3 separate regions of the Homo sapiens genome follow, and regions 1 and 2 are each linked to region 3. Evidence: fine-mapped expression QTL. A gene starts in region 3. Each other region holds a variant in brackets. All regions are shown on one strand. Distances are between the middles of the regions. Region 1 has its middle 9.6 kb from the start of LINC00656. Region 2 overlaps LOC101929707 (a long non-coding RNA gene). Region 3 holds the start of THBD (thrombomodulin).

What was found.
Region 1: its variant is fine-mapped to the expression of THBD in whole blood (INTERVAL, PIP above 0.99).
Region 2: its variant is fine-mapped to the expression of THBD in whole blood (TOPMed, PIP above 0.99).

The regions. Positions count from the first base shown.
Region 1 is chr20:23,121,657-23,124,414 of GRCh38, reverse strand. No RefSeq gene overlaps it. Among named protein-coding and RNA genes, the nearest start is that of LINC00656, 9.6 kb to the left of the region's middle. The variant A/G (reference allele first, on the strand shown) is at 1,185.
Region 2 is chr20:23,020,208-23,022,965 of GRCh38, reverse strand. All of the region lies in intron 1 of LOC101929707 (a long non-coding RNA gene), which reads left to right. Among named protein-coding and RNA genes, the nearest start is that of SSTR4, 14 kb to the left of the region's middle. The variant G/T (reference allele first, on the strand shown) is at 1,157.
Region 3 is chr20:23,048,234-23,050,939 of GRCh38, reverse strand. It overlaps THBD (thrombomodulin), which reads left to right and starts at 1,268. Exons shown (of 1, transcript NM_000361.3): 1 at 1,268-2,706. The coding sequence starts at 1,436.

The DNA of each region.
Region 1 (2,758 bases), 73 kb before region 3:
ATCTGACTTATTTCACTCCACATAGTGATTCTGAGATTCAAATGTTGTGTGTATCAGTTGTTTGTTCCTTTTTATTCCTGAATGGGAGAGGGGATGTCAAGCTGCACAGTTTTATTCCTGGGCTACAGTGGAGATGGATGGTTCTACCGTCTCTCTGAAACACCATCTGCAGTTTCTTCAAAATCTACCTACACATCTTCCATCCCATCCTGAGGAGTCCCCGAGGGTTGAGAAATGCATGACCCCACACCTGGCTGACGTGTACAACTGGCGGAGTTAGTTTTTCCTGTTGACACTGGCCACGGGCGCCTCAGCATGCACAGCCCTGGCCTTGCTCCTCTAGGCATGCTGGGGGCTTGTCCACACGTGTGGTCTACGGATGGAGGAGAGTGGCCTCTGGCCCATGCGTGCCATGCACTGGACCTTCCCAGGGAATCAAGTTACATGATGTTTCCTTGAGGAGCTACATACAAAGTAAAAAACTGAAATCAAGAATATCAGTCATTTCTGAATATGCCAATTCGCCCATGGTGCAGTTTGTACAGCTTAATCACTGCAGAACAGTTTTGAGGATAAAATTAACCAAAAACCTAAGTAGACAAAATATTCAAATTTTTGGAATCTGTCACAAAAATCCACAGATGACTTATTTTCCATTGTAGCTTATAATGTCCAAAAGCCTTTCTAGTGACTTATAACTGATGGTGAGCTCCCACTCTGTGGCAGCTGTGGGACACTGGTCTAAGGACTACACCCTGATGCCTGGTGAGTTACAGAGGCCATGAGAAGATGTCAGTGAACCTGAAAGCCAGGGAGAGGCTGTGTTCCTGCCGGACTGTGGGGCTCCTTCGCTCCCCTGCTGTGGCCCTTGGTCAGGCCACTTTCCCTCTCTGGGTGTCAGTGGCTTCATCTACGAAGTGATAAAAAACTAATGCAAACCAGAGCAAAATGAGATAACACGGGGACCCCTAATGTCCCAGGGAGATGGTGAACTGAAGCACCGCGTGCGGTGAGTTGTTGCTGTCTCCACCCCTCAAGGAGACCGCAGCTTTGCAGACGTGTGGGTCCCATCATCGGCCCCATTCTACATTCCTCCCTGTGTCCCTGCCATCGCCAGGTGACTTTGCTGGGCCCTCCCACCGCCCTAACTCCCAATCCCAAGATCTTCAGTGAACGTGACGCGC[A/G]CAGCAGAGGCCCAGAATGTATGTGTGCATGTGGTGACAGCTAAGCCTGCCTGGAGCAGAGCCCCAACCCTGCAGCAGCTCAAACAAGCTGAGATCAGCAAATGCACATCTGACTCTCAGACATGGGGGCAATAATAATAAATGCTGTTTGAGTTTTGGGGTCTTTGGCTACACAGCAATTGCTCACCAATATGACAGGGTTGTATGACGTGGCCATGCGGAACTGTATTATAGGGGAAGTGGTGAACAGTGTGATGAGATTTTAAAGAGGAACAGATTTACCACTGACTTTAGAAATCATGGAGGAGAAATCTCTGGGGTTGCCCTTGAAGGGTGTGTGGAGGAGGACATGGGAGAAGGGGGAAGAACCGTGGCATCCTGGCTAAACAGACACAGGGCAGAGGGAGCCTCTGTGTTGGGACTAAGATGGGGATGTCGGGGAAGGGACATGGCAAGCTGACTGTTGGTGGGGAAGGCACGTGTGGGGCTATATTGTGATCATTGTGATGTATATACATTGTCACCTCCTACTGTCTCTGAGTCCGGCTGTCCCAAGCCCCCGCCGTGGAATCCAGCAGTGTTCGGGCCAACTCTCAGAACCTTGGCTTTGTCTGGGGGACCCCTCCCAGACCACTTCACCTGCAAGCCCTCCCACACGGTGACATGACAGCCCCGCTGTCACTGCACATGATGGAGGCCCATAGGGTGGCCGACCACACTCCTGCCAGGTTGTGGGGACCTCTGCCCAGGCGCTGACCCTTTGCCCAACTGGGCAGTGCTCCAAAGCACTCAGAGTAGGAGTGCAATCATTTTTCATTCTTAGATTCAGTAGGCACACTATTTTGTCCAATTTCCATCCTTGCTTCATCATGTTAACGAATTGTGTGGACCTGTGGTGGCTCCAGGCACTGCTTGGCTTAGCATAGGCTTAGGGCACAGACTCAGGTCAGACAGGGCTGGGTTTACATCTCACTCTCAAATGGTAAGATCTTTTTTTCTGGTAGGGGAAGAAGAATTAGTAAAAATCTCTGAAACTCAAATCACTCTTGCTCCAAAACCACAGGAACACGTAGATGCTCTAGTTGACATATGAACACCCCGTAAATGTCATCATCAGGGTTGCTAATCAGCTGTACGTAGAGAGGCAGTGCTGGTGTCATCAAAAGCACAGCAAAAATAACAACAACCTGGAAGCGAGGAATGGATTCAGATCCTTCTCTCAGAAGGGGCTTTGTCCTGCCGTCGTGACCTCTGCTCAGTTCCCCAGGACAGGTGGGGGCCTGCAAGCCCAGCAGGTCCTCCAGGCTACCACCCTCCCCCTCTGCAGCCCCCACCACCCCCACCATCCTGTGCCTGGCCCTGGCTCACCAGCCCAAGCTGACCACCAGGCAGGTCTCAGCAGCAGTGCTCTCCGCTGGAAGTCGGCTCCTGCTTCTCGGGAGGCCTGAGCTCAGAGATGCAGGATACAGAAGGCTTCAAACTCCTGCCTTTCTGTTAAGAAAAAGGCTCTTATCTCTTGAGGAGTCACAATTCAGATAAGAGGCATCCAGCAGCAGGTTCCAGAGCTGGGAGGC
Region 2 (2,758 bases), 28 kb after region 3:
TGAACTTTCTCAAAGAGCAATACATAACACTTCTCTTTGTTATAAAACCTCCAACCATCTCTTTGTTCTTTAGACACACCGAAAACCACCCAATATGTGGTCTTGCAATTCTTTCTTCCCAAATAAAATGTTAAATTTAGAGGTTCATCTTTACCTTTTAATTCTTTGACACAACCGAATAGGACAAAGCAATGCATTTAACTTGTTCAACTGTTGATGAAATCATTGCAAAGGCAGCTCTAATTTTTTTTCAGACCTCAGTCTACTGACAGCATGAACAGAAAGAGAGGGTCTCTTTCTGCTGGTGCTTCGGTTTGAGAACCAGTGCTCCTGACTTTGGTTGGCCATTGGTGTCTGTCTGAAGAGGGTCTCCACTGCCCCCAGGCATGTTCCTTCTCTCACTGCTGCCCCCTGGGATGGAAACTCGACATCCCCTCTTTCCCTTCCTACTGGCACCAACGGTACCAGAGCAAACCCCACAATCTCCATGCCTACATTTCTTTGACATCCACCTGTCACCATCTTTGGAGGATTCAAGTGAAGTTCTTTGTCTTTTATGGGACAGAGATGATTCTCCACTCCAGAGGGTCTGGAGTGATTATAGGAATGTAATCGCCTTGAACAATCAGCGTGTTTTACAGCCTACTGCCCTGCATTTTGTGTGGAATGCAGTTGTCTTATTGCTTGGAACCAGCTCTCAGTAGACCTCAGCAGCTTATAGACAAACCCGAGTGAACTTTCCTCATGACCATGCTAGTGTCTCCATCCTGGGATGAGCCACAGCTTCATCACCATAACATGCAACCTATGTGCTGGTGTGATGACTCGCTGTGTCTGCACCACTGAGGCTCCTCCTCCACATGCCATGACGCGTCCTCTCTTCTCTCCATCTCCCCATGAAGTCCTCCTGTCACTTTCCCTCAGGGAGACATGGCTTTGGAGAGTACTCCCAACAGCATGCTTATTTGTGCCAAGTAATAAAACTCCTGTTGATCAAACCTACAGTCTCAAGGAGATTGATTTCTTACTTGCCAAGCAAAAGAACCTGGGTTTTTTTTTTGGGGGGGGGTGGTAAAAATAGTGTCTAATCCACATGTGCAATTAGCATTCCAGTAGACTTACACCATCAAAAAGATACTCTTTCTTCTGTCCTGCA[G/T]GGTGCCTTCTCCTCTGTCCTGCCATGGGTGAGGCTGCCTGGACTTAGGGGAGGCACTACCTTCCCTTTTCTTTGCTTTGCCTGCCTCACTGAGCAACTCTGAGGTATTACGGAGATGCCTATCTTTCCTGGTAATTTTAGCATTGTTACAATGTGCAGATCTGGACAATACTTTGGAGATGCCAAATACACAAGATAATGGCTGTTATTTTAAAGCTCTTCCTCCTCTGCAAATACAAGTTACTAAGATAATACAGAGGGCTTCACTATAACAGGTGTGGCTTTGGATGTATAAACAGTGCAATATACCAGAGTCTCTTGATTAGCTTGAAGTGCTGTGGGCTGAAATCAGGACCTTAGATCTCTGCCAGGGGTGGTAAATGTGCTCACTTTTCCTTCCAAACAATGGGTGGTGAGCCTGAAGGAAATGCCTCCAGAAAAGCTTACTGCTGTGCTACAACACCTTGTCTGTGTTTTAAAGGGCCACAATGGAGGCCCTCCCAGTCCACATTTGACTTCTCCCATGTATACTTTTCTTTTGAGATATGTTTATGACTTATTTGCGAGTTATTAGAAATAACACAACTGTTAGAAATAACACAGTTTCTTAAAAATATCTGTTTGTGTTAAGTTTCCAGAACTCTGTGACCGTGTTCAAGAGAAGACTGTCAGTAACGATAGCTACAAACCACACTCTATTTTCCGAGATCTTTTTGTTACGACAGACTTGCTGTCTAAAACCCTGCTTGGCCCATAGTGTTACTGGAAGGAGGTCCTGATCCAGATCCTAAGAGAGGGTTCTTGGATCTCACTCAAGAAAGAATTCAAGGCAAATCAATAGCGTAAAGTAAAAGCAAGTTTATTAGGAGAGTAAAGGAATAAAGAATGCCTACTCCATAAGCAGAACAGCCCTGAGGGCTTCTGGTTGGCTGTTTTTATGGTTATTTCTCAATTATATGCTAAACAAGGGGTGGATTATTCATGGGTTTCCTGGGAAAAGGTTGGGCAATCCCAGAACTGAGGATTCCTCCCCTTTTTAGACCATATGGGGTAACTTTCAGACATTGCATGGCATCTGTAAACTCTCATGGCGCTGGTGGGAGTGTCTTTTAGCATGCCAACGCATTATAATTAGCATGTAATGAGCAGTGAGGACAATCAAAGGTCATTTTCGTCACCATCTTGGTTTTGGTGGGATTTGGCTGGCTTCTTTACTGCATGCTGTTTTATCAGCAAAGCCTTTGTGACCTGTTTCACGTGTCAACCTCCTATCTCACCCCATGACCCCTTAACCTTCTGAGAATGCAGCCCAGTAGGTCTCAGCCTTATTTTACCCAGCCCCTATTCAAGATGGAGTCGCTCTGGTTCGAATACCTCTGACAACAGCCCATCTGTTCAATACGTAACTATTTAATTAAGTAAATTCCTGCATGTCTAATTAGCTCCTGTGAGTAGTTCATAGGCCTCGTTCCCTTTCGCAGAGCTGGGGTTCTAGGATTCCACGGAGTAGCAGAGACCTCTGCAGCCTTCTGGGGAAATGTGCTGTGTTTCCGCAGGTACTTCCCTCAGCCCCATACAGCATCAGGACATTCTCCAGGTGCT
Region 3 (2,706 bases):
GCCGCCCCCTGGCGCTCGTTGTGAGGACAGTAGAGGAGAGAGGCAAGGGTGTTTTTAAACAGTTTGCCTCTCACCATTATGGGGGCGACCCGAGGGGGAGACCCACTCTTCCGCATTCCCGGTAAGTGAACCACCGGAAGAGGTCGAAAGTGACGGATTCCCATGTCCTCCTCCAGCCCCCCCCCCACCCTGCCCATCCACAGGACGGTGGCTCTTCAGTGCCCTTTGCCGAGCAAGTGGCGTTTCTATGCACGTGGGTATCAATTCGGACTCTGGACGAAATGGAAACCTCCTTAGCCGACCCGGGTGGGATCAGCTGGGATCCTGCGCGCTCCCCTGGGGGGTTGCCAGCCACTCTGTTGGGGTGCAAGAAGCACCATCCTTCGGAAGCTGGGCCGAAACTGGCCAGGCTGACTCGCTCCCACGCGCCCGCCCCTACCCGGCGCCGCAGCAATTCACCTGCCACCGCCTCTGAGCCGGGTCCGGACTTCGGCGCCCTGACAGTGTCCCCGCGACTTCCCCACCCGATGAGATGGGGTCTGGCGTTGGCCAGTGCGTGTCCAGGGACTCGCGGGTCCCTGGCCAGCCATGGGGCAGAGGGCGCTGGTGTTAGGCCAGTCTTCCCCACCCTGCCCCGTCACCCCAGCCACACCCACTGTCCTGTGAGGCCAAGCGCGCTCCGCTGGTTTCCTGAGCCAGGCACCTTGGCCGCGGACAGGATCCAGCTGTCTCTCCTTGCGATCCTGTCTTCGGGGAAGTCCACGTCCTAGGCAGGTCCTCCCAAAGTGCCCTTGGTGCCGATCACCCCTCCCAGCGTCTTGCAGGTCCTGTGCACCACCTCCCCCACTCCCCATTCAAAGCCCTCTTCTCTGAAGTCTCCGGTTCCCAGAGCTCTTGCAATCCAGGCTTTCCTTGGAAGTGGCTGTAACATGTATGAAAAGAAAGAAAGGAGGACCAAGAGATGAAAGAGGGCTGCACGCGTGGGGGCCCGAGTGGTGGGCGGGGACAGTCGTCTTGTTACAGGGGTGCTGGCCTTCCCTGGCGCCTGCCCCTGTCGGCCCCGCCCGAGAACCTCCCTGCGCCAGGGCAGGGTTTACTCATCCCGGCGAGGTGATCCCATGCGCGAGGGCGGGCGCAAGGGCGGCCAGAGAACCCAGCAATCCGAGTATGCGGCATCAGCCCTTCCCACCAGGCACTTCCTTCCTTTTCCCGAACGTCCAGGGAGGGAGGGCCGGGCACTTATAAACTCGAGCCCTGGCCGATCCGCATGTCAGAGGCTGCCTCGCAGGGGCTGCGCGCAGCGGCAAGAAGTGTCTGGGCTGGGACGGACAGGAGAGGCTGTCGCCATCGGCGTCCTGTGCCCCTCTGCTCCGGCACGGCCCTGTCGCAGTGCCCGCGCTTTCCCCGGCGCCTGCACGCGGCGCGCCTGGGTAACATGCTTGGGGTCCTGGTCCTTGGCGCGCTGGCCCTGGCCGGCCTGGGGTTCCCCGCACCCGCAGAGCCGCAGCCGGGTGGCAGCCAGTGCGTCGAGCACGACTGCTTCGCGCTCTACCCGGGCCCCGCGACCTTCCTCAATGCCAGTCAGATCTGCGACGGACTGCGGGGCCACCTAATGACAGTGCGCTCCTCGGTGGCTGCCGATGTCATTTCCTTGCTACTGAACGGCGACGGCGGCGTTGGCCGCCGGCGCCTCTGGATCGGCCTGCAGCTGCCACCCGGCTGCGGCGACCCCAAGCGCCTCGGGCCCCTGCGCGGCTTCCAGTGGGTTACGGGAGACAACAACACCAGCTATAGCAGGTGGGCACGGCTCGACCTCAATGGGGCTCCCCTCTGCGGCCCGTTGTGCGTCGCTGTCTCCGCTGCTGAGGCCACTGTGCCCAGCGAGCCGATCTGGGAGGAGCAGCAGTGCGAAGTGAAGGCCGATGGCTTCCTCTGCGAGTTCCACTTCCCAGCCACCTGCAGGCCACTGGCTGTGGAGCCCGGCGCCGCGGCTGCCGCCGTCTCGATCACCTACGGCACCCCGTTCGCGGCCCGCGGAGCGGACTTCCAGGCGCTGCCGGTGGGCAGCTCCGCCGCGGTGGCTCCCCTCGGCTTACAGCTAATGTGCACCGCGCCGCCCGGAGCGGTCCAGGGGCACTGGGCCAGGGAGGCGCCGGGCGCTTGGGACTGCAGCGTGGAGAACGGCGGCTGCGAGCACGCGTGCAATGCGATCCCTGGGGCTCCCCGCTGCCAGTGCCCAGCCGGCGCCGCCCTGCAGGCAGACGGGCGCTCCTGCACCGCATCCGCGACGCAGTCCTGCAACGACCTCTGCGAGCACTTCTGCGTTCCCAACCCCGACCAGCCGGGCTCCTACTCGTGCATGTGCGAGACCGGCTACCGGCTGGCGGCCGACCAACACCGGTGCGAGGACGTGGATGACTGCATACTGGAGCCCAGTCCGTGTCCGCAGCGCTGTGTCAACACACAGGGTGGCTTCGAGTGCCACTGCTACCCTAACTACGACCTGGTGGACGGCGAGTGTGTGGAGCCCGTGGACCCGTGCTTCAGAGCCAACTGCGAGTACCAGTGCCAGCCCCTGAACCAAACTAGCTACCTCTGCGTCTGCGCCGAGGGCTTCGCGCCCATTCCCCACGAGCCGCACAGGTGCCAGATGTTTTGCAACCAGACTGCCTGTCCAGCCGACTGCGACCCCAACACCCAGGCTAG